Linked DNA regions of Homo sapiens. The protein of the gene in region 7 interacts with the protein of the main gene of each other region in a pairwise test. Each region holds a gene or a part of one and is shown on either strand. Other genes may lie near its edges.

The links.
Region 1: the proteins of BCAP31 (region 7) and TIMMDC1 interact in binary tests that used the Homo sapiens proteins (3 or more experiments, as listed by UniProt).
Region 2: the proteins of BCAP31 (region 7) and HACD2 interact in binary tests that used the Homo sapiens proteins (3 or more experiments, as listed by UniProt).
Region 3: the proteins of BCAP31 (region 7) and TRAM1 interact in binary tests that used the Homo sapiens proteins (3 or more experiments, as listed by UniProt).
Region 4: the proteins of BCAP31 (region 7) and DERL1 interact in binary tests that used the Homo sapiens proteins (3 or more experiments, as listed by UniProt).
Region 5: the proteins of BCAP31 (region 7) and DRD2 interact in a two-hybrid assay, tested with the Homo sapiens proteins (one large-scale study listed by BioGRID and IntAct).
Region 6: the proteins of BCAP31 (region 7) and CFTR interact in binary tests that used the Homo sapiens proteins (3 or more experiments, as listed by UniProt).

What each region holds. Positions count from the first base shown.
Region 1 is NC_000003.12:119,501,547-119,505,046, reverse strand, and holds part of TIMMDC1 (complex I assembly factor TIMMDC1, mitochondrial isoform 1 precursor), read right to left. Parts: intron 1,516-3,500; coding exon 1,427-1,515; intron 1,094-1,426; coding exon 1,026-1,093; intron 1-1,025.
Region 2 is NC_000003.12:123,575,054-123,578,553, forward strand, and holds part of HACD2 (very-long-chain (3R)-3-hydroxyacyl-CoA dehydratase 2), read right to left. Parts: intron 1-3,500. UniProt on the Homo sapiens protein: Catalyzes the third of the very long-chain fatty acids (VLCFA) elongation four-step cycle (condensation, reduction, dehydration, and reduction).
Region 3 is NC_000008.11:70,594,917-70,598,416, forward strand, and holds part of TRAM1 (translocating chain-associated membrane protein 1), read right to left. Parts: intron 3,340-3,500; coding exon 3,218-3,339; intron 3,096-3,217; coding exon 2,979-3,095; intron 1,406-2,978; coding exon 1,347-1,405; intron 1-1,346. UniProt on the Homo sapiens protein: Involved in the translocation of nascent protein chains into or through the endoplasmic reticulum (ER) membrane by facilitating the proper chain positioning at the SEC61 channel.
Region 4 is NC_000008.11:123,015,487-123,018,302, forward strand, and holds part of DERL1 (derlin-1), read right to left. Parts: intron 100-2,816; coding exon 1-99. UniProt on the Homo sapiens protein: Functional component of endoplasmic reticulum-associated degradation (ERAD) for misfolded lumenal proteins. Forms homotetramers which encircle a large channel traversing the endoplasmic reticulum (ER) membrane.
Region 5 is NC_000011.10:113,465,399-113,468,898, reverse strand, and holds part of DRD2 (D(2) dopamine receptor), read left to right. Parts: intron 1-3,500. UniProt on the Homo sapiens protein: Dopamine receptor whose activity is mediated by G proteins which inhibit adenylyl cyclase. Positively regulates postnatal regression of retinal hyaloid vessels via suppression of VEGFR2/KDR activity, downstream of OPN5.
Region 6 is NC_000007.14:117,478,664-117,482,824, reverse strand, and holds the start of CFTR (cystic fibrosis transmembrane conductance regulator), read right to left. Parts: upstream 2,801-4,161; 5' UTR 2,731-2,800; coding exon 2,678-2,730; intron 1-2,677. UniProt on the Homo sapiens protein: Epithelial ion channel that plays an important role in the regulation of epithelial ion and water transport and fluid homeostasis. Mediates the transport of chloride ions across the cell membrane.
Region 7 is NC_000023.11:153,714,388-153,717,887, forward strand, and holds part of BCAP31 (B-cell receptor-associated protein 31), read right to left. Parts: intron 1,303-3,500; coding exon 1,155-1,302; intron 1-1,154. UniProt on the Homo sapiens protein: Functions as a chaperone protein. Is one of the most abundant endoplasmic reticulum (ER) proteins.

The DNA.
Region 1 (3,500 bases), on a different chromosome or scaffold from region 7:
GAGTGCAATGGCGTGAACTCAGCTCACTGCAACCTCTGCCTCCTGGGTTCAAGTGATTCTCCTGCCTCAGCCTCCCAAGTAGCTGGGATTACAGGCACCTGCCACCACACCCAGCTAATTTTTGTATTTTTAGTAGAGACGGGGTTTCACCATGTTAGCCAGGCTGGTCTCAAATCACCTCTGATGATCCACCTGCCTTGGCCTCCCAAAGTGCTGGGATTACAGGTGTGAGCCACCGCTTGGCCAAAATCTACTTTTTAAAAGCAATTTTGAAGTATACAATACACTGTTAGTAACCATAGTTACCATGTTTTAAATAGATCTCTTGAACTTATTCCTCCTGTCTAAATGAAATTTTGTATCCTTTGACCAACATCTTTTCCAACCCCATATCCAGTCTCTGGTAATCACCATTGTACCTTCTATTTTTAATGCTCATTAAAAAGAAAATATACATATATATACTAGAGGCAGAGAGCTTTAAAATAAAATCCAAGTTCTTACCATAAAAAATCTAGTCCATTCCTATAGTCCTCACCAATCTCATCTCAAGCTACTCTTTCCCTCACTCACCACGTTATTATCCTGCTTTTAAGGAAATGTTTTGCCTTAGAGCCTTCCCCCTTGATGTTCCCTCTATTTAGGACACCCTTCCTTGCAAGTCTTGCTCCTTCCTATTCTTTGGTATCAGCTCAAATGTCACTTCCTCAGAAAGGCCTTCTTTGACTACCCTGTCCATATGAGATCCCATTGTTCCACCGAATTGTTACTTTCTATCACAACAACCTGTATTATCACATACATATTAGACATTAAAATTCAAAGAAAGCAAGGGCCTTGCTGTTTTGCCCATTGAGTATATCAAGGGTGAAGCACAACACTGTCCATAAATACATTTTGCATCAATGTTGATGAGATGTAATGGGAAGCCAACCAAAGAATTCAGTAGTTCTGATGTATAAGTCCTTACACATTTTCTAAACTGTATTTGAGAAGACTGAAAAATATAAACAAAAATGTCTTACCTCCTGCAATTACAAAATGGCTTAAGGCATCTTTATTTCGGTATACATTCAGACTAGTGTTCACTGTGCTGGTAAAAAGGGAGGAGAAGGAAAATATAAGATTTAAAGCATATCCCATTTACCTTCTTGAGTGTTATTTTCACTGACTTAATAGATTTAGAAAAGCCTACTATATCAATCCCTGTTCCTAGCCTAGGCCCCTTCAATGTGTTCCAGACATGGTTGTAAAACCATAACTACACCAGTCTTTTACACAGAGAAAAGTTCTTGAAAAAAAAAAAAAGGCATTATTAATCACTTTCATGTGGGTATTCAGTTTTCATAACCCCACCTGCTCAAAAGACACACTCCTAAAACAATATCAAGAAAATTCACTATCTCACAATTCAGAGTGAACTTACTTGAATATAGTCACAAACACTGCAGTTCTCCAACCCCAGCGCCAGCCATAACGAATGAAGCCTCGTGTGGCAGCACGATGTGCAGATTGCTAAAGTTAATTAAAAAACTGTGAGGTTCTAAGACACCATCATATTTTCCTTATTCTAGAACTGCGGTAGAGGAATTTTAGCTATGGATTAGTCAGGTACACCCAAACAGATAGAAATACTAGAAAATCTCTAGAAATACTATTCTTTAAGTATTGAGGCTTACGTAAAAGTTCCATGTGTAGCCTATCCTATCAGGAGATGAAAAAATGGTTGAGTATCCCTTATCTGATACTTGAGACCAGATCCCTTATCTGATACTTGGATTTAGGATTTTTTCAGATTTGGGAATATGCGCTTTTAACACTTACTGGTTGAGCATCCCAAATCCAAAAAACCGAAATCTGAAATGCTCCAATGAGCAATTCCTTTGAATGACGTGTCAATGCTCAAAAAGTTTTGAATCTGAGCATTCAGGATTTCAGATTTGTGCTGCTCAACCTGTAATGAATTATAAATCTACAGAATAAAATAAGAATCCATGAGTCCCTACTGATAGAAATAAATTATAAATAGATAAATAAATATGTAAATAGAGGGGGGAAGGGAAAACACTTCCTTAGAGCATAATACTAACCAATAAATGTAGAAAGAATGATAGACTTTAGAAAATGCCCATTTGGCCACCACAGTCATAATTGTTACAGGAAGAATCATCATTAAATGCTAAAACTGCCTGGGTATGGTGGCTCACACCTGTAATCTCAGCACTTTGGGAGGCAACTAGGGAGGATCACTTGAGCCGACAAGTTTAAGACCAGCCTGGGCAACATAGCGAGATCCTGCCTTTACAAAAAAAATTTAAGAATTAGCTAGGCATGGTGGTGTGTGTTTGCAGTCCTAGCTACTCGGAAGGCTGAGGCGGGAGGAAACCTTGAGTCCAGAAGTTTGAGGTTGTGGTGAGCTATGATCGCGCCGCTGCACTCCAGCCTGCACTGAGGCAGGAAGACCCTGCCTCAAAAAATTTCAAAAAAAAAATTAATTAATTAAAAAATAAAAATAGGCTGGGCACAGTGGCTCACACCTATAATCCCAACCCTTTGGGAGGCCAAGGAGGGGGTGAACTGCTTGAGCTGAGGACTCTGAGACCAGCCTGGGCAACATGGCAAAACCCTGTCTCTACAAAAAATACAAAAATTAGCTGGGAATGGTGGCACATGCCTATAGTCCCAGCTACTTGGGAGGCTGAGACAGGAGAATCGAGTGAGCCTGGGAAATGGAGGTTGCAGCAAGCCAAGATTGTGCCACTGTACTCCAGCCTGGGCAACAGAGTGAGACCCTGTCTCAAAAAATAAATAAAGGAATAAATAATTTTTAAAAAAATAAAAAAATTATAAATGCTAAGAATTTAGAATAGTTTTTAGATAGTAGAAATATTATAGTTTATAATAGCATTTAAGTAGTAGAAATTTGATGAAAAGCAGGATATTTACATAGTCTCAAAGGAACTAACAAGTACTCAAAATACTTATAAATTACCAAGGAAAAACATAGTAATTTTACAGTGTATAGTTGGCAGAGGCCATCTTAAGCAAGTCACTGAAGTAAACATCACCAGTAAAGGGACAGAGATATCATGGGTTTCTAATTTAATTTCAGTTCTAGGGTATTCCTGTCAAAAAACATAGTCTGAATGCAGTCATGAGAAACCATCAAACAAACCCAAATTGAGGGACATTCTACAAAATAAATCACCCATAGTCAAGGCCATGAAAGACAAAAACAGAGAAACTCTTCCAGACTAAATGAGACCAAAGCAGCATAACAGGCAAATTCAACATGTGATCCAGGGTCAGATTCTGGACCAGACAAAAAAAAATTTAATTAATTAATTTTTTAATAAGAACTCAAGCCTAACTTCTGAAAAATACATTTTTTTATTTATTTTTAAAATAAATGATACTGTGGGATAACTAGCAAAATTTACAGGTCTTTAAATAAGATAATAGTACTATATCTGTGTTAATTTCCTGATCTTGATATTATA
Region 2 (3,500 bases), on a different chromosome or scaffold from region 7:
TGCAGCCACTAGCCATATGTGCCTATTTAAACTTAAATAAAGAGTAAAGAATTTTCATTTTTTTTTTTTTTGGAAAACAGGGTCTTGCTCTGTCTCCTAGACTTGGAGTGCAGTGGAGTGACCATAACTTACTTCAGCCTGAAACTCCTGGGCTCAAGCGATTCTCCTGCCTTAGCCTCCCGAGTAGCTAGGACTAATATGCGCCACTGTATCCGGCTAATTTTTTAAATTTTTAAAATTTTTTGCAGAGGCGAGGTCTTGCTATATTGCCCAAGCTGGTCTTGAACTCCTGGCCTGAAGCGATCCTCCCACCTTGGCCTTCCAAAGTGCTGGGATTACAGGTGTCAGCCACCACTCCTGACCAAAAGTAAATAAAATTAAAAACTCAGTTTCTCAGACCCACTAGCCACATTTTAAGTGACTAGTGGCTACTGTTTTGGACAGCGTTCCAACGTTATCACTGCAGAAAGTCCTATTGGACAGTGCTAGTCTGAAAACTTGGTTAATTTTATTTATTTATATAACAGTTACTCTTTGATAACAGCTAACTACTCTGATTAAAGTTAAATAATCTTTGGTAAGGTGCTTTCAAAGTTCCATTAGCTTTTCTAAGTGTTTTCAAAATGTTTCCAGCTTTAGGAAACTGCATGGTCTGTTATCCAGGAACCTAATATTTCCTACTACACGGGGATTTTTTCTTCTTTCAAGTTTAAGGTCCCAAGTTGTTTTTAACTATTACATTTTAAAATCTGCTCTTTTATGCTGGAAATTGTTTAAGTACTCAGGAAGGGAAGAAATTTTTTTGTTGTGGAACACCATAAACTCTCACTAACCATAGTGAGGTGGCCTTTCAGTTCAGCAAAGTTTTCTATAACTTTTCTCCCTGATTATTTATAAGCTGTATATTCCAACCTTTTCTACTTCCTCTGGTAGTCTTACTTTTTGAAAGCTTATACAACCTCATCAGGTTTTCTAGATACATTGGTTCTATATATATTGTTTTTCTGTTATAATGTTTTGTAATGTTTCTTTTACATGGTGAACTTTGAAAATTTCCCTATGACTTCTGTTCTGCAATTCATTTTATATGAGAACGTGAGTGGAAACTCCCGCCTTTTTTGAATCTTCAGTATCACCTATTTCTTGCACTGTGGCTCCTTCGTGCCCTATATTGCCACCATTGATATTTTTAGTTCTTTTTTTTTTTTAATTTCAGTACATTCCCTTCTACAGATGTTAGCTATTGTACCTCTTTGAATACCACATCAATTTGCTTCTATTTGCTTGAGTCACCAAGCAGTGAGGCCTGTGTGGGTGGGTTCCTGTTTCCTTCCAGCTCTCTCTTCCCTTCTAATGTTGTGACACTTATTAATTTTAATCAAGTTAGAGTTTTCCTCTGGTTTTCACACTGTTTGAGAAGCTGGTTTTTCTGGGATTTGTTGTCATTCCTATTTGTGTTAGATATCTACACTATAACTTGCTCTTGCTAGCTTTTCAAAAGCCTCTTTTAGAGATGTGTTTCCTCAAAATGGGTCCAGAATAAAAGGAGCCTAACACATGCATGTAGCTTGCATTTCAGAAGTTCCTTTTTGAGACTATTACTGGGAAATCAGAATGTTTCCACAAGAAGGAAAAATATAACAGACAACGGTTATGTCCTCAAACCAGTTCACAAAAGCAGTCTGAAGCACAATACCTCCATGGCAAAAATCAGTTAGTGTTTGAGCCATAAAGAAAGAAAAACTGGCAGGGAGATAAGAAGGGATCTTTCTTCTTAAGGACACTGCAAGTTTCTAAGACTTTGCTGTATTTTATAGAAATACCCAAAATCAATTTCCTATTCATTAAAGGATCTGAAGAGCATTGTGAAGTGAGGTCTGCAGAGTGAGACAGGAACACACAGATGAGGCTGAGAAAGTGCTGGGGTTAGAAGACTAACAAAAGCTGTCTGCTGTCTCCCACCACTTCTCCAGACCTTGCCCTAGATCAATTCCAGGACACGATCAGAAATGAGATTGGGTTGTTTATTCATTTTTGTAGATAAGGGGTTTCAAGTAGAAGAAAGATCTGGAAGAGAATGGGAAGAAAAGGGAATTCCTGTGGTCCATCAGGAAGTCCCAGATGCACAATGGTAGGTAAATGTCATATACAGCAATGTACATATGTTGAAGATAGCCTGTATCAATCTCAACAGTTAACCTCTTTGCAGAGCAATCTTTAACCCATTTGAAATCTCACTGTCAATCACAGAGGCATATCCAATCATGAGTATTTGAAAGTGTCTTTGGCCGGGCGCAGTGGCTCACACTTGTAATCCCAGCAATTTGGGAGGCCGAGGCTGGCGGATCATGAGGTCAGGAGATCGAGACCATCCTGGCTAACATGGTGAAACCCCGTCTCTACTAAAAATACAAAAAATTAGCCGGGTGTGGTGGCGGGCGCCTGTAGTCCCAGCTACTCGGGAAGCTGAGGCAGGAGAATGGCGTGAACCCGGGAGGCGGAGCTTGCAGTGAGCCGAGATCGCGCCACTGCACTCCAGCCTGGGCGATGGAGTGAGACTCTGTCTCAAAAAAAAAAAAAAAAAAGAAAGTGTCTTTGCTATAATTACAGTCTTATGTTAACCAAAGATATTTAGAAACCCAAATTCTCTCAAACATAATTTTAAACTGCCATAACTGCATTAGTCCACTAATTTTTAATCTAACTATACTTGACAAATATGCAAAGATAACATCTGCCTCATCAATGAATATCATGGACTCCAAAAATGAATAAAGTAGAAAACACCCACAACTCATTACAGAGGAACTCGTTTTTTAAAAACTGACATATAATTCACATGCCACAAAATTCACAATTTTAAACTGTACAATCTAGTGGTTTTTAATATGTTCACAGAGTTGTGCACCCACCACCACTATTTCAAGAACAATATCATCACCTTAAAAGGAAATCCTGTACCATTAGCAGTCACACCCCACTCTCTCTCCCCACAGCCCCTAACAATTCCTCTACTTTCTGTCACTATGGATTTGCCTATTCTGGATATTTCTTATAAATGAAATCATACTATTTGTGACTTTTTGTATCTGCCTCCTTTCACATGCATTTTTTCAAGATTTATCCAGGCATATATCAGTAATTCATTTGCCTTTATTAATTTTATGAATGTTTATATCCATAGACCACATTTTATCCATGAGTAGCATTTTATTTATAGATACTTTTTTTTTTGGAAATGGGGTCTTGCTCTGTCACCCAGGCTGGAGTGCAGTGGCACGATCATGGCTCACTGTAGCCTTGAACTCCTGGGCACAAGTGATCCTCCCACCTCAGTCTCCTGATTAGCTGGGACTACAGGCATGTGCTACCATGCCTGGCCAATTTTTTAATTTTTTGTAGAGATGGGGTCTCGCTATGTTTCCCAGGATGGTCTTGAATTTCTGGCCTCAAGCAATCCCCCCATGTCAGCCTCCTAAAGTGCTGGGATTACAGGTGTG
Region 3 (3,500 bases), on a different chromosome or scaffold from region 7:
TAACCCACATGTCTATACAGTTTCATCAAGACAAGAAGGGGAAAAAGACTGACACAAAAGCAAAGGCTCATAGATTAATAATCACCTGAAACTGGAATAATCCCAATTTCAAATATCCTCTGTTTTTTTTTTTTTTCTTAGGCAAATATGGTAACTGTACCTGGTTGGAACATGGAGAAAGCCCCAAATAAATGGAGGCAGAGCTAGGATTAAAGACAGTCAGAATAAGGCACACAAGGGCTCTCCAGGAGCTATATCATAATCAGTCTAGAACCAATACTCTCCTCTTGACATTATATCCCTCTAGCCCTTCTGCTTCCTCTTTATTCTCCCTGCTCCTTCTCCTCCAGAAGTCTAAAATAGAAAACACAAAGCCAACCTAATTTCTTGGTGGTCGGGGTGGAGAGAATACAGTCCCACATAAATATAATATTTACAAAGTTCGTTGAACTAATAAAACTTTAGAAATCAGAGTATGATTCAGTAGAGTGGGTATTACTGCTAGACTTAAAATACCCACAGTCAGGTTATTCCCTTCTTTCCTTCGTATCTTCTCCCTTCTCCAATTCTCACATCACAATGTATTTACTAAATACTGTGTAGGTGACAAGCACTTGCAATGTACCTGGCACAATGAAGGATATAAAATAGTTTTTACCGCTACCAAGGCACATATAGTCTTAGTGGGTATGGGCACAATACAAGACTTACAAAAATGAGACAATTATAGAACAATCAAAACAATATATAGACACTACATCAAATTTCTACCAAAATGACAAATTTGGGGATACAAAAGACCAATACAGGCTAAAATAGCAAGGAAAATTAATATAGAATAGTTGTACTAGAGCTGGGCTCGAATAATGAATTATTCAGACGTCTTGGTAACCACTGAGCACTTTAACCCAGCAGCACTGTACAGACTAGAGAAATAAAAAAGAAACAATTCCTAACCTCAAGAAGCTTATAATAGGAGAAAGAAAGGAAGATGTGAAAAGAGACAGGGGGTGGGGACAAAGAAAAGGAGCAAAAATATAGAGAAGATGGAGTCATAAAAAGGAGAAAGTATGAGTGAAAAGAAGGGAAAAGAAGCGAGTACCAAATTAAGTTATGTTAAAATCAGTTGTCTCAAGCTTACAAAGATGTTGAAAAGATTAGAATAGAAACATTAAAAAAAGGTACACAGCTTTTTTTTTCTTACGGCAGTGGGACTGTCAAAGACATATTTTCATCTATTTTATGCATTTGCCTAAGGTCCTAAAGAGAATAACAAGAATGAATTCTGATTAATAGTGACATGACCATGGTCCTTAACAAAGAAAGGGCTGCTAAAAATGACTTACGTCATCAGGTTATGGGGATAAGCCCTCCATAAGATAGTTGGGTCTGAGATGTAGTTTTCCTAAGAAAGAAGATATAAAAATTAACCTGTGAGCATAATGCAAACTTCTTGGAAAATAAGGCATTACTTTCATTTCTCAAACATTTACAGGTCCCATACCAGGTTGCAAAGAACCCACTAATGTCAAAATCCTTAGTTGTTTTAGTTATTTTCAAGCCAATTTGAGTTGGTTACTTGAGCAAAATGAAAATCAATGATAGAAATGAGATATGGAATCAGGTAAGACATAATTCCTGGCCCTAAAAAATCTTTCAATCCCATAGAATAAAAATACACGTACACAAACAAACATAAAACCACCAATAAGAGGCACAACAGTGACCAGGAGAGAAGAATTTTGTCTTAGGTAATCAGAAGATTTCAGGAAAAGTTTGTAGCATCTGACAGGAGACAAAGGATCAGGGTGCTACCGAGTTTTATGGAATTACGTCAATAAAATACTGCCCCAATTTTTTTCTTAGATAATCAGATCTACTCAGTGAGAATTACTGCATATGTAAAAAAAAAAAAAAAAAGATTAAAAAATAAATAAAATCTAAAGTGATTTTTGTAAGAGTATTTTCCCACAGAAGTATAACTTTTATGTTTTTTTAAAAAAATGTATAATAGTTTTTAAACTAAAATTTACATATTACCTATAAAGTATTATTAAAGCAGCACAGTAAAATGGAATGAGCAATGGAATAAAAAGCTGAGTTTTAGTCTACTTCCAACATGAAGTGCTTTACCCTGGAAAACTCACTGTTATTCATCTCTAATACAGTGATTAGAAAGAATTATGTGTCTGACAAACTCAAAAGTATGTAAACTATGGAACACCATATAAATTTAAGGGATTGTTATCACTAATATTAAAGCAAATACTGCCTTTCTTTTTCTCATTAGTTAGAGTGATACAACTAAAGGTTTTGATTGCCATAACTGAAAAGTTATACAACATTTAAGAAGCTTGGAAAACACTGGGGCTGTTTTTAAAGGAGGAAATGACTGTGAACATTACAACTCATGTAACCTACGCTTTTTGCTGATACAGAGGTATCTGTAAACCACTATAAGATACAAAAGTAAGGCCGGGCTTGGTGGCTCAAGCCTGTAATCCCAGCACTTTGGGAGGCCGAGGCGGGTGGATCACGAGGTCAGGAGTTCGAGACCATCCTGGCCAACATGGTGAAACCTTGTTTCTACTAAAAATACAAAAATTAGCTGGGCGTGGTGGCGTGCGTCTGTAGTCCCAGCTACTTGGGAAGCTGAGGCAGGAGAATCGCTTGAACCCGGGAGGCGGAGGTTGCAGTGAGCCGAGATCATGCCACTGCACTCCAGCCTGGAGACAGAGCGAGACTCTGTCTCAAAAAAAAAAAAAAAAAAAAAAAAGAAAGATATAAAAGTAACATTCAGAGTGACTAAAAATGAATAAGCCTTTCTGAAACAGTAAACATAGTTTAGAATTTTTGCTGTATAAAAAAATACCTAAAACAGATTTATCACTGAAACTCTTAACTTAATACTATTTCATTAGCAGAGTTTCTAATCTTAGATAAGGAAGGAGAACAACAACCTAAGAGGACATACTTACAGAGATGAGAATGAATGTGCCCCAAACACAGGCAAAAAGGTAGAACGCACTAAGCTGACCAGATTCATTAAACTTGCTGTGTTTTGTTTTGGAGAAGTGCATTCGCCTGTTAATTTTCTAAAAATAAAAACAGCCATTAGTAATTAAGAATAAATTATAAATTATATTTAATATATGACTAGCAGATTATGGAGAGCTAGTACTTTATAAAGTATAGATTTCTAAGACTGCATACTTACATCCAACATATACTCTTGAATTACGGCATGAATAATTATCGCCACTAGCATGTAGAAGAAAACAGTAGCCAAATCTTTGATGCCATAGTAATAAAGGGACACTGATTCAGTAGCTTGTTCTTCTGAAGACCAAAAAGGACACAAATACACAAAAATATACACAAGGTTATAAAAACAGCATTAAGTACAACATAGTTATGGAAACAAAGAAGAATAACCTAATAAAAAAGTTCTATATTAACATCATAAATAACGTGGTCTTGGACATCTTGAGTCTTAGAGG
Region 4 (2,816 bases), on a different chromosome or scaffold from region 7:
CTCCCGCCTCCGCCATTCTGATCAGCAGCTCGCCTCATGCTAGCAGGGGGCACACCAAATCCTGATACTCCTCCTCTCCTACTGGGCAGCCAGCGGTACCTGGTGCAGAAAGACGGGGACACAAACGGAGAGAAGAGAACAAAGTCACTTCCACATAGTTATCTGACCTCCGAGAACACCTCCCTCTCCTGCTGTTCCCATGGCACTTGTCATGTTGAAGGCAGCGAGGGACGTCTTATTTAACTTTGTCTTTTCTGTACTCAGCCCCATGACCTGACCACAGACGGCATTCGTTTTTCATGTTTCTTAAATGTATTCAGATTTCAGCTAAATTCACACTCTGAACGTTTTTTTCTCTGCTTATAAAAGTAATCCATGCAGAACAGTATGGAAACAAAAATATTACACCCACAAGCCCAGCAACCAAAGAATGACTGATAGCATCTTGGTATATCTAAATATGGCTCAAACTGGATCAAAGGATACAAAATACATTCACTTTCAAAGGCCAAATCCACAGCCTGCATGTTTGAGCCTTGCACAGCATTTCTAAAAGGCTCTCAGCTGAGCCCATCAAAGGAGACAGGGGAAGAAGGCTTTCTATGTTGGAAGTATGGGTATGTTTTAAAATTTATTCAGAATCTGCCTTCCAGGTACATTCTTCCCTTCTCACAGATGGTGGGAGAGCTGGGGCCCCAGACGGTTAGATGATTTCCCACCTTAAAATTAATAAACTAAGAGTTCACAGAACAGCTAAGAGAACTTAAACCCAAGCCTACACTCTCAATAGTATTTTCCAACTATTTCCCATCTTTGACTCTTTTATTAGTAAACTGAGAATGTGTTTAAACCTATTCCACTTAGCAGATCCTAATGTTTAAAATTTTGCTTGAAGGCAGAGAGCATGATCTGATACCTCCGCTTAAACCCTTCTTGGCAGCAAGAGTAAGTCATGACAGGTGACTTGTCCACAGCAGAAACCCTGAAGAGGACAGGCTTTATACTTGACCTTATACTAGAGCAGTTACTATGTGAATTTACTCAGTGATTATTGCCTTACACTAGGTGCTGCCTGCTTATAAATTCATCTGATCTTCACAATAACCCCATGAGGTAGGCATTACTATTACTCCTGTTTTATAAACAAGAAAATTGAGCCAACACTGAGTGAAGCGCTTCGAAAGTGACAGGATTCCAACCTAGTCAGCCTGGTTCCAGAGCCTGCGCCCTGCACTACTTGTTATACTACATGCATCCTGCCTGGGAAGGGACAGCAGTCAGTGACTGGAGTCTGTTTACATCATACTCGATACCTTCATGCCTCTTCCCAAAACAGACAACAACTCGGGTTTTTGTTTTTTTGTTTTTTTTTGAGACGGAGTCTCACTCTGTCACCAGGCTGGAGTGCAGTAGCATGATCTCAGCTCACTGCAACCTCCACCTCCCGGGTTCAAGCAATTCTCCTGCCTCAGCCTCCCGAGTAGCTGGGACAACAGGCGCCCGCTACCATGTCCAGCTAATTTTTGTATTTTTAGTGGAGCCAGGGTTTCACCATGTTAGCCAGGATGGTCTCGATCTCCTGACCTCGTGATCCACCCGTCGGCCTCCCAAAATGCTGGGATTACCGACGTGAGCAACCACGCCTGGCCAAAAACCCCTTTTAAACACAAAATTTAGTGTGTACAGAGAAGATATAACTACTCTAAATGGAATGGAAAATGGTGATACAAATGTATCAGCATTCCATTTAGAAAAGCAGTTATACCTTCCTATACTCACCTCCTCCATTTTAAACAAATACAGCTTTACCATTAAATCAAAATGTATTTTCCAAGTGCTGGTTTCTCAACATCCATGCCTTCTGGTACAATAATATTCCTCCAAAGTACATAATAAAATAGAACACTTGCTGGAGAAAATGCTAGGGCTGTCTTGCTTTGCTACTCACTCTAAGACAATATGGAAGCCATCTCCACTGCTTAAGTAGATAGTGAAATTAAATGCAAATAATTAGTATAAAAAGATACCCAATTATACATAATCAACAAAAATTTATGGTAATTTCAAAGCAGTTACTGCTTTTGCAAGGAGCTGTATTTTGTCATCTGATCTTTATGCAAAATTTAGCAGAAGGACTTCCCCCAACAGAGAAAGTTCAAGTGGAAGGCAGGCTCCAGGGCTCGCTGATTTTGCCACTAGAATCTTGTATCCTGTGTTGCCCACAACTGAGAAGTAGCTACAAGCCGTTAAGTTAGAATATGGCCATTTAAAGTAAAGTAACTGTTGGCTGCCCCCCAAAAGCACCAAGCTTTTTTTAATTGATGCATCTGCCATCCTACTTGATAAACCTAGATCAGAAAGCCAAACCTGCTGTTATTATGTCCTTTGATAATTAGAAACCAGATTGGTCATTTGTTTTTTTAGCCTGAAGGCAATTCAAGGCTCAGAAGAGAAACAAGTTTCTTTTTATTCTCTTAAAGAAAAACACACACACCACAACCACCAATATGGTATATCTCTGTATATTACAGTTCACAATTTGAAAAGTCTTTGAAAAACATACCCCTACCCTATAAAAGGAAGGGGAGAAAGAGGAGGCCTGCTCAAGTTTTACTGCCCTCACTGATCCCTTAGAGGAATGACAGAACTGCAAAACATTAAAATTAGCAAGATGTGGAAGGGTTTGGTTTGTTTGTTTTTTTAAAGCTTTCAAATGCAAGCTATTACTGCATATCCCTGATATGAGATTAGGCATGATTGTCAGGCAGGCTGTGACACCCAGATGGTGATTTAACTGGCCCGTTCTTCGACAGCCT
Region 5 (3,500 bases), on a different chromosome or scaffold from region 7:
GACAGACACAGGAGTGACTCATGAGAGCTGCCTTTAAAAAATGAGCTGATTAGCCAGACGCGGTGGCTCACGCCTGTAATCCCATCCCTTTGGGAGGCTGAGGTGGGCAGATTGCTTGAACTCAGGAGTTCACAACCAGCCTGGGCAACACAGTGAAACCCCATCTCTACTAAAACACACAAAAAAATTAGGATCTGGCAGCATGCACCTGTGGTCTCAGCTACTCAGGAGGCTGAGGCAGGAAAATTGCTTGAACCTGGGAGGTAGAGGTTGCAGTGAGCCAGTATCGTGCCACTGCACTCCAACCTGGGTGGCAGAACGAGACTCCATCTCAAAAAACAAACAAACAAACAAACAAAAAACAAAAAAAACCCTGATCAATGCTTTTCTGATAGACAGAGGCAGGTGAGGCCTGGATGTCCCTGGGCAGGGCACTTAACCTGCTCATCAGTTATTTCAGGCACAAATAAGGGACTGTAATAATCGTGTTCACCTCATAATAAGTGAGAAGACTCCTCTGTTGTTGAGCCTCACCATGAGTTTTATGAATGACATATATCAATATTTAGTCACCTATTTAAACCCTTTAAAAACAACACCATATGGTAGTTAAACCTGTGGGCTCTGGAATTAGACTTCCAGGATTTGAATCCTGACTCTAACACTTACTAGCTATGTGACCATGAGCAAGTTAATTAACCTCTATCACCTGGGGGTTCTCACCTGTAAGTGGATGTTAATACCAACATAATTGGGTCACAGTAATTAATTAAGGTAATAGAGACAAGACATTTGAAAGAGTCCCTGGGAAAAGTGAGTACTCTTTAAATGTTAACTGTAATGATTGTTATTGTTATTATTAAGATGCTTAAGTAAGAAACAACACTTTGAGCTGTTGTCCTTTTGCAGTAATTCAGCACCTGATTTTACATTTCTGAAATCATGTTTCTAAAACGTTCACAAAATTCAAGGATATACTTCTTTCTTACACTCTCCACTTATCTGCACCAAAATTCTTTGGCTTTCACCTGTCAGCAGCTCTTGCTCATTTTGAGCGAGATAGGGGTTTGAATTGCTTGTCATCCCTTTGATTTAGGTGCAGCTGAATTCATTTCCATCTTACACCACATGAGCTAGGAAGAGGCATAAGTTATCCTGGTGATAGCTTTTCATGGCCTAATTTTTCTTCCTGGTTTCCTGGGCTCTGTGTCTGCTACCTCATGGTTGGAGCCTCCCTGATTGGCAGTGTCACATGGTATGTTGCTCTGGCACAGGCCAGTTTTTATTAAAAACAAAAAACAAGGAGAATGTACTGGTGTACAAGGACAAGGTGACTTTTTTTCTTTTCCCAGATTGAAAGGGCCAAAGAACTTCACATGAGCAGACCCCCAAAGCTGGCAGAAATATGTGTTCTGCAGCTTCTGGAGTCATTCTTGGCAGGAGCAAATGCTATCATGTTTTTAGGTGAAGTATGGTCCTGCCTGAGAAAGGAGGATGGAAACAGTAGCTTCTGGTCCTGAGATTCCCCAGTGCATAAAGATAATCCCTCTTGTTGGCCTTTTTCTTGGTCTATGAATCCCTTCTTGGGGAGGACTCTCTTGTAATTGATGTGCATCTATTTCTGGCCAGCTACAAATGCTCACCATTTAGCTATGGTAGAATATTTCAGAAGGCACTGTAGGTATTCTGTTCCTGGGTCATCTTCCTTGGTTCATCCTTTTTTGGACTCAGCCCTTTCAACTCTTTCACTCATTTATGGCAGGGTCAATAAGAGACATGTGTTGACAAGCAGAAACTAACTTCCAGGGTCCCAGGCAGAGGATGTCAGCACCGCCTCCCACCGCCTGCCCCCGCACCACGGTGGATCCATGTTTCCACACACTATTTTTCTTTAGTAGTATGTGTAGTTGAAGGTCTGGGATCACTCTAGAGTCACATTGTGACTAATGACACAAAATCTCCCTTGTGGCCTGTCTTCTGTGAGGAGCCAACTTAATGCTTAATGCTAATCTCTCAATTGTGCATTTCTTGTCTTCTCCACCAGACCATGAGCTCCTTGAAGCAGAGAATTTGTCTCATGCTTCTCTAAAATCTATTATAACCTAAAATGGTGCTAGGCACTTGGTAGTTACTTAAATTGTTGAGTGAGAGTGGGTGAGTGGATAAGTGATGGGTAGGTGAGAGACAGCTTACTTCCCCATAGCGACACTCTCCCTCTACTTTACTTGCAGCTTAACAAGAGTGGCAGTGTCTGAGGCATCCCCCACTAGAGGTATCTCATAGGTCAGCAACATACTTCATGCCTTCTCTCTTTCATCCCTAACCTGCACTATCTGGCCACCCTCAGCCATGAAGACATTATAGGTTGGATGGAAATTTTTCGCAGTTGTCACAGGGCATGGAAGTTGGGGAATATTGAATGGTTGGAACCTACTTCAATCAGACACACTCATGGAGAAAATGCACTGGGGGGGCTGTTGAGGAAACATACACAGGTGTGTTTGTTCAGGTCAGCCTGGGGACCTGAAGACAAAAGAGCTGTTATTGAGGGATGCCATTAGTGCTTTGGTGATTTCTGTGTTTAGACTTTGGGGAATTGGACTAGTCCTTACTTTAAAAGGTACAGATAAGCATGATTATACCCAAGACCCTCCAAACGCAGTAACAGTTTGAACCTATCTTTCCACAAAGCACTTTTAAGAAGTGGGCTATGCATCCCCTGTCCCTCTAGTTATTTAGTTAAACAAAGTGGTTCAGAGCACTCAAAAACCAGGCTAATGCAGGATCAGATCTTTGTTCTATCGGTCATGAGCTATGTGACCTCTATCAAGTTACTATCACCCCTTTGAGATGCAGTTCTTTATCCCTTCATAAAACAGGATGACTATATACTTACCTGATTGGGTTTTGTGCAAAGGAAATGAGTCACGCACATAAAGTGCTTGTCTCAGTACCTGATGCATGGTAAGCTCTCAGCAAACATTCACTATCATTATCCTTATCGTAATTATCAGTGGGCAGAGAAGTGTCCACAGAACCCTTCCCAACCTGTGCTCCAAATTTTATATTCTCTCTTCTGGAGGGAAGAAAGACACCATTGCAGATGAAGACATTAGACCAGGTATGAATTGGCATAGAGTGTTATACTTGAAAGAACCCAATGTTACACAGCAGAGAAGTAGGAGAGCTGGACTAGAACTCACTTCTGCCCAGGGTTTTTCCTCCACACCTGGCTCAGGTTAGACCATGGAGTTTTGAAGAAACTCAGTGGCTAATGAATGGGATTTGAAGTGAAGATGGTACAAGGTAAGGCCAAAGGCTTAGGCAGGGGCCTGACTATGAACCTTGAAGTCTTATGTAGGAGACTGGATTCCATCCTGAGGGAAAAAAGAAGCCAACTTGAAGGATTGGGTTTTAAGCACAGGGACAACTCCAGTGATTCAATTTGCAGTAAAACAAACAAACAAACAAACAAACAAACAAACAACAACAACAACAAA
Region 6 (4,161 bases), on a different chromosome or scaffold from region 7:
TCTTACAACTAAACGAAATATGAAAAATTCAGGGCATGAGAGAAGAGACAGAGAGGAACAAACTGAATAACTACCTTAAAAGTTGTGAGAAAATGTAAATTTAAAAAATTTTCCCAAATTAAATAGCACAATCTCTGTTGGTGACCATTTATAAATCAATCCCACTTGTATATGAATTATAAATTATATGCTAATATATCACTTCTAGTTTAAAAATAGCTTCCTATTTCATAAATGTTATTTTCATAAAAGTTTCAATTTAATGTACTTGTTTGCTCTGATAGTCATGAACTACCTGAATTTTTCATGGTGAAATTCTCTCTTAGATTATGTTTATTTTATATATATATATGGATTATGATAGTTCAGATGTTCTTCAAATTTTATACTTGATGTGAAATCCACACAAAATTAAGAAAGTAAGAAATAACTTAGATTTTTTTTCCAAACTTTTTGGTTTTCCAATGACAAAACCTAGACATATAAAGAGATATTCAATACAATCTATAACTCATACCATAATAATTTTACTCTTTTATGACTCTCAAACTGAAGGGATCCTATTCAGAAAGTTAAATTCTAAGGCATTTAACAACATACAATAGAAACATGTGACGTGTTTCCTGTATATCTGGTAAGGCCATGTGAAACACAATTTTTCATAAATTAAATTCTCATACAGGCCCACTCATTGCATATCCAGATTGAGAGTCACAAAATTATACTCAAAGATGAATTGAGCATCTTATATTAACAAGGTGCATGTACTGTGATGAATGTGAAAATATGGTAATCCATAATAATAGCAGTTAACATTAGGCTAACTTTTCACATTCATTTTCTCAAGGGATTAACCCCTATGACAGTCTCCAAATTTTAAAGGTCAAGTCACACACAGAGATGTTAAGGGACCTGCCTCAGGCAACAGAGCTACTAAACAGTAGATGTAGGATCTGAATCAAAATAATCTGACTCCAAAGCCTACCACTTTGAAAACTAAGCAATACTGCCTAACTTAATGCAGAAAATATGTTTTTTACACTTTTAGAATTGCAGTCCAGAAGGCCAGAAGGAAGTTTGTAATCATTGGTATTTTAGGTGATTGTCAGTTCCTATAAATAGTAGGAACTTAACTTTTAAAAACATACCTATTCTTAAAGCACCTTATGAAATATTTTGGAGAACAGAAATGAGTATGCTCTTAACACACTTAGCAGCCTTTGTAATACATTTTCTTTGCAAACCAGCCTGATAGCATTTTTTAACCTATATTAAATGTGTCAGGTGATTTGTAAAAAGAAAATTATATAAAAACCCACTTTGACAGATCAATAGTAAGCTATTTTAAAGTTCATTAGTATTTAGAACTATCCATGAAATATTCATTCTTCTGAAAACTGCATTTTTAGACTGGTTGGCATTTAGGTTCCTCAAAGTTCTCTGCTAAAAAAAGTCTATAATTTATGCCAATTAACATTTTGACTTTATAAGGACTAGGAAAACAGATCAATAGATAAGCCGATTTTATAGGTGGAGTAACAAAAGGTGGATAACATCAACACAAAAAGATAATTCCAAAGAGTAAAGTCCTTCTCTCTCATCCACAGGGAGGAGCTCTCCTTCAAGGGCCAACAGTCTCTCCTTAGCACCGGAGTTCCAGGATTAACTGCACATGCAGAGAACTAAACATAAGAGAGATGTGAAAGCTAAATTCCTTCCCCCCTACACACATATATGAGCTATTTATAACATATTTGACTTTTTTGATACCTCAGTATGCTTATTCATTGGGTAATTATGTGTCAAGTAATGTCCCAAGAGAGAGCAGTACCTATTCATTCATTCACACCAGTATAATAACAGGAACAAAGTAGATGCAATATCCAAAGAACACTTCAAATATGAAGTGCTACATCTAACAACACTTTGCCTAAGATTCCGAACTTAGATGCTATTTTAAAAAATCTCATTAAAGTTTGCAAGCTTCTGTGGCTCATCACATTAGGCTATGAATACAATTTATTAAATGTCAGTTGGATATAACTTCGGTATCTATTCCTATGGCTTTTAAAATTTATAGCTTGTGAAGTAACTTTTTTCAAAATAAATATTTCAACAAATTTGCTTTCAATTTTTGAAGAATCATTTACCTGTGACAAATACTAGATATATCCAGTCTCATAACAATAAATACTTTAAGCATATATTTTCTACCTACCCCAAAATTTTTGTTGGCTGAATTCAGTCAAGAAATGTTTTCTGAGCACTTACTATATGCAGGCATGGCACCTGTATGTGCCAAGAAGACAATCAAGTGTCCAAGGCATGAAGGGGGAAAACCAATAAACCATACTTAGGTACTTATTAACAAGTATTTTTAGTTTCTTAGAAAAATGAAATAAAACAAGTGCATAGTAGCGTACTTGAGTCTTGAGATTCTAACTTTTCAGTTGCAAGTAGATGTGGCTCTCTATTCAATCAGCTTCAGTTCATTCTTCCATCTCTTCTTAATGCTTTCTGTTTTATTCTACAATACCCACATTTTCTTTCAAAACAATGAATGATAGCGCATCTTTTTAAAAACTGCTTATTCCTTTACCCCAAACCCAACCCATACACACGCCCTCCTCTTTCGTGGGCACGTGTCTTTCCGAAGCTCGGTTGGCCACCTTCTCACCTGAAAAAAAGTTTGGAGACAACGCTGGCCTTTTCCAGAGGCGACCTCTGCATGGTCTCTCGGGCGCTGGGGTCCCTGCTAGGGCCGTCTGGGCTCAAGCTCCTAATGCCAAAGACCTACTACTCTGGGTGCCTGCCGCTCAACCCTTTTTCTCTGACCTGCTGTGATGTCATTTGCTTCCAATTCCCCCCACCCACCCCTACTCCGCACACCACCCCTTCCTTTTGCTCTTTCCCCCGCCTTCACTGCCCAGGTTAAAAGCCGAGTGCTGCCTGGTCCGGCCCCAAATTTGCTCTAGCGGCTTTCTCCACCCACTACGCACCCCCGCCAGCACCCCTCCCGCTCCTTCCTCCTCTCCTCCTTCGCTCCCTCGCCGCCCCGCACCTCCCTTTCCCGATTCTGACTCCCAGCCTCCCTCCCTCGCGCGCGCTCCTTCCAGGTCCGTGTCCTTACCGCCCAGCACCAGGCCCATCCCGCAGGTGGGCGACAGTCGCGGCCTCTCTTTAGGTCCAGTTGGCAACGCTGGAGGACAGAAGAAGCCACCGGCGGGAGAACCGGCTCCCCGGAGAGCTTCCTAGACCCTCCTTCGCGTCAGGGTCCGCCAGACCCAGGACCCGCTGCCACCAGCTTCCCCGGAGCCTGCCTTCCTCCTCCTCCTCCTTTTCCCGATGATCCTAGTCGGGTTCCTGTTACGTTTGCAAGGTGCATTTTGAAAAGGGAAGGAAAATGTGCCTTTCGTATATCAAAATACAGCCTTAGAGAGCCGAAAAGTTCCGCGGCAGTGTGGGTCTGATGCATTTACCTTAGCGCTTCCTTTGCGTGTCGGAGAAAAGAACCAAGCTTTATTAGTTTCAGGTTTAGGTGAGTGAACTCCAAGGGTGGCACAGAAATCTTAGGACACGTACTGAAAGAGAAAAAAAAATCTGCAAGGAGGTAAGAGGAGATAATGCTTTGCGTAATTACCGGCCCAGGATGTGTTCCTTGTCTATCCTTTTTAGCCCAGTGCGCATTTTTAAGGAAGGCTTTGGAGTGTTTTAGCGATAATGACAAGGAACAATGTAAACTAACCCGCCCTCCTATAGATTTCCTAGTCTCAGTCAGCAAAACATCTTGACTAATCCACCGAAAGGAAGCCAAGCAGTCTTTGAAGCGAAGGTAATGTGTTAACTTTGACCTGACTCAGAGAAACGCCATCTTCAACTCTCTGAGGGGCATCTGGGCATTCCCAGGCGTAGGCGCCTTCCTTCTGAGAATTTTGTGTAGGATTGCCTGTGTCTCTGACGGTTTTTAAAGAGCCAACCCTCTAATCCCTGAACCCTACTGTGTAAAAGCAAGCATACATTGTGTTTGAATTGAAAAATTCAAAGGAAAGTAAAAATTTTGGCCTGATTACTTTATTGCCGACACATCTAAGGCAAGGGTCTTGTGAATTATCTTGTTGTTGACTTGTGGTCACCCAAATACAGTACAAATAAAATGTGCAT
Region 7 (3,500 bases):
GGGTATGTGTCTGACTCCTCCCAGCCTTCCTGACTTTCCTAAGTTTGAAGACAGCAAGCTTGTAGATCAAATCTGTGATCAAACCCATTATCTTGAAAAAAATGTGTTTGCCTTTTCTAGCTCCACCCCTCTTTCCAACTTGGTCGCAGAGAGTACCAGATCATCTAAACAACAGATTTTAAGACAAGTAGTCATCGTAGCGCCTAGTAAAGCAGGACACACCAGGTGACTAGAGAGCAAGAATCTCCTAGGCATGGAGATTCTTGAGTCTCGGGGCACAAAACCAAGTGGGGAATAACTGTCCATGAGCCTGAGAATCACTTGGTGCTATGGTCTGAGTGCCCTTCAAACTTCATGTGTTGGAATTTAATCCTCACTGCCGTAGCATTAAGAGGTGGGGTCTTTTGAGAAGTGATTAAGTGATGAGAGCTCCACCCTCAAAGCAAGCGCCTTTCCAATGCCTTCATACATGGTCTGAGCTCCCATCCACCTCCCAGCCAGGCCCTGCTGATCAGAACGGCTATGTGAAGCAGGAGGCAGCAAACAGGGCCCCAGGCTCAAATAGGCACTTCGTAGTGGTCTAGTTTTGCCCGACTAGTTACCCTTAGCCTTGATTAAGGTACTTAGTTTTACCAAAAAAATCATCAGAAATACTCTGGCTGCCATGGAATGTAACATGTCCTCATTACGAGTTTCACGTGGGGAAGGCCCTGAGGTGAGGAGAGGCCCAGCCTCTTCGTGCCACTTTTACCTGCTGTCCCTAGGTCAACACCCCGGACACAAAGAGTCCCCCATTCAGTCGCTCCCTTGTGAGCTGGACTCTGAAGGTCCTCTCCCAGAGGAGGGCAAGGCCTTACCGTTACATCTCACTCTCCATGCAAACAGACCGTGAGATAGTCATCTGTTTGCCTGAGAGTATGTGGTGTGTGAGGGTCTTCTGATATTTCAGGCAGCCCTCTCCTACTCTCCACGCTGCCTCTGGAGGTCAGGAGAAAACTATGTGGCTTCCCTAACACAGACAGGGCTTTGGGATCCAGGCCACAGACTGAGGAGGAATCAAAGTCACAGGGGGGAGACTGAGCCCACTGAGCTCGGTGTCCATGGCTAGCCCATGGCTCCTTTCACAGCACCTGCCCCCTCAACCCCCCACTCACAAGGACAGCAGCAAGGAAAAGCCAGCAATGTAGAGATTCCTCTGGGCACGGAAAAGCTTCATGTGGAAGTGCTCCATGGCCCCGGGATTGTTCTGGAGGTTCACCTTTTCCGTCACATCATCATACTTCCGAATTTCGCGCACGGCATCTGTGGTGGAGCAGAGAGGAGACACGGGCATTTAGCGGACACTAGGGCAAGATAAGGCCATACCAGGCAGACAGGCGGCATGAGACAGGTCAGACTCACTTCCCTCAAATCCGCCTCCCCAGTTCTTCCCACTTCTATGCACATACACCCCTCATGGGATGCTGTTATCAGAAGCTCCCACCCTCAGGCCAGGTGCAGTGGCTCACGCCTATAATCTCAGCACTTTGGGAGGCAGAGGCGGGCAGATCACCTGAGGTCAGGAGTTCGAGACAAGCCTGGCCAACATGGCAAAACCCCATCTCTACTAAAAATACAAAAAAAAAAAATTTAGCCCGGCGTGGTGGTGGGCGCCTGTAATCCCAGCTACTCGGGAGGCTGAGGCAAAAGAATCATTTGAACCCGGGAGGCGGAGGTTGCAGTGAGCCGAAATTGAGCCACTGCACTCCAGACCGGGGGACAAGAGCGAAACTCCATCTCAAAAAAAAAAAAAAGGAAGCTCCCACCCTCAGACCCACTCCTTCCTCCAGCTTTTCAATCCCTGGCCCCATTCTACACAGGCCCCAGGCTTGCTCTGCAGTTCACGATGCTAACCAAGCCTAAAGAGTTTCTGGAAATGGGGGTGGCTTCCTTTTCCCATGGTACCCTCACCGCGTCTTGTTCTGTTCATCTCAAGTTGGCCCATAGCCCCCCAACCCCCACAATGATAAGTTGAACCTGGAGATGGAAATGCCTGCTCCGGGGACCTAAGGTGCTTAAGAGTCAAGACCCAGGCCAGATGTGGTGGCTCACGCCTGTAATCCCAACACTTTGGGAGGCCAAGGCAGGAAGACTGCTTGAGGCCAACGAGTTCAAGACCAGCCTGGGCAACACAGGGAGACTCTCTCTCAACAAAAAAAAAAAAAAAAAAAAAAAAAATTTTAAATAGCTGGGCATGGTGCTGCACACCTGTAGTCCCAGCTACTCGGGAGGCTGAGACAGGAAGATCGCTTGAGCCCAAGAGGTCAAGGCTGCTGTGAGTTACGATCACACCACTGCATTCCAGCCTGGGCGACAGAGCGAGACTCTGTCTCGAAAAAGCCAAAACAAAACAAGCAAACAAACAAAAAAATAGGAGTCAAGACCTGCAGGATACCAGCTAGGAGTCAAGGGTTTCATTTCAAAGCTTTACAATGGGTTTTATTATCTATAATGTTTTATTCTGATTACGAAAGGAATTCACACTCATCGAAAGTTCAAACACACCCAAAATGTAGAAACGGAAAGGATCCCATAACATAATCACATCTAGCAGTATATACAATAAAAATGTGGTCACATCTAAAGTCATTTTTAGTCACATTACACTGTTACCTGCTTCGTAATAGACATCCATCTCTGAAATTCTCTTTAAACACATTTTTTGGGTCCATCTCTCCCAAAGTAGACTACAAACTTCATAAGAGCAGAAATCTTTTATACTATATTCCCAGGGCCTGGGATAGCTCTGGGTGCAGAGTGGGCACTGAAATAATTGCTGAGTCAGTGAGCAGCCTCTGCTCCTGAAAGAGCCGCTGTTAGACATATAGAGCTCCAGTTAAAAATATATTTATATTTGTCTCTAATGTAGAAATTGAGCCACGCCAAACCTACTGCTTTTCCCCATGCATCCTGAGACATCGTTTTAAGTCAATACACTAAGATGTACCCAAAGAATGCTCTTAATAGACTCCCATATGAGAGGAGCAAGGTATCACTGTATGGGTATCGAGGTTCTTTTTGTATGGTGGGTTACAGGGTCTCACTCTGTCACCCAGGCTTGAGTGCAGTGGCACGATCCCAGCTCACTGCAACCTCCACCTCTCAGCCTCCCCAGTAACTGGGACCACAAGTGTGTGCTACCACACTCAGTTAATTTTTTCTTTTTCTATTTTTGGTAGAGACGGGGTTTCGCCATGTTGCCCAGGCTAGTTTCAAACTCCTGAGCGCAAGCAACTGCCTCAGCCTCACAAAGTGTGGGGATTACAGGCGTGAGTCAGGGCACTGGCCTCATGGGGTTCTTAATTTCCGGTTTTAGGCTGCTTAGTTTTTATGTTGATCTTGCATTATAAAAATCTGCCCATCCCTCAGCACCACGAAGCGAGTACTCTCAAACGCTGTTAGCAGGGGTAAAAACAGCACACCTGTATAAAATGCAAAATGTTCATACCCTCGGGTTCAAC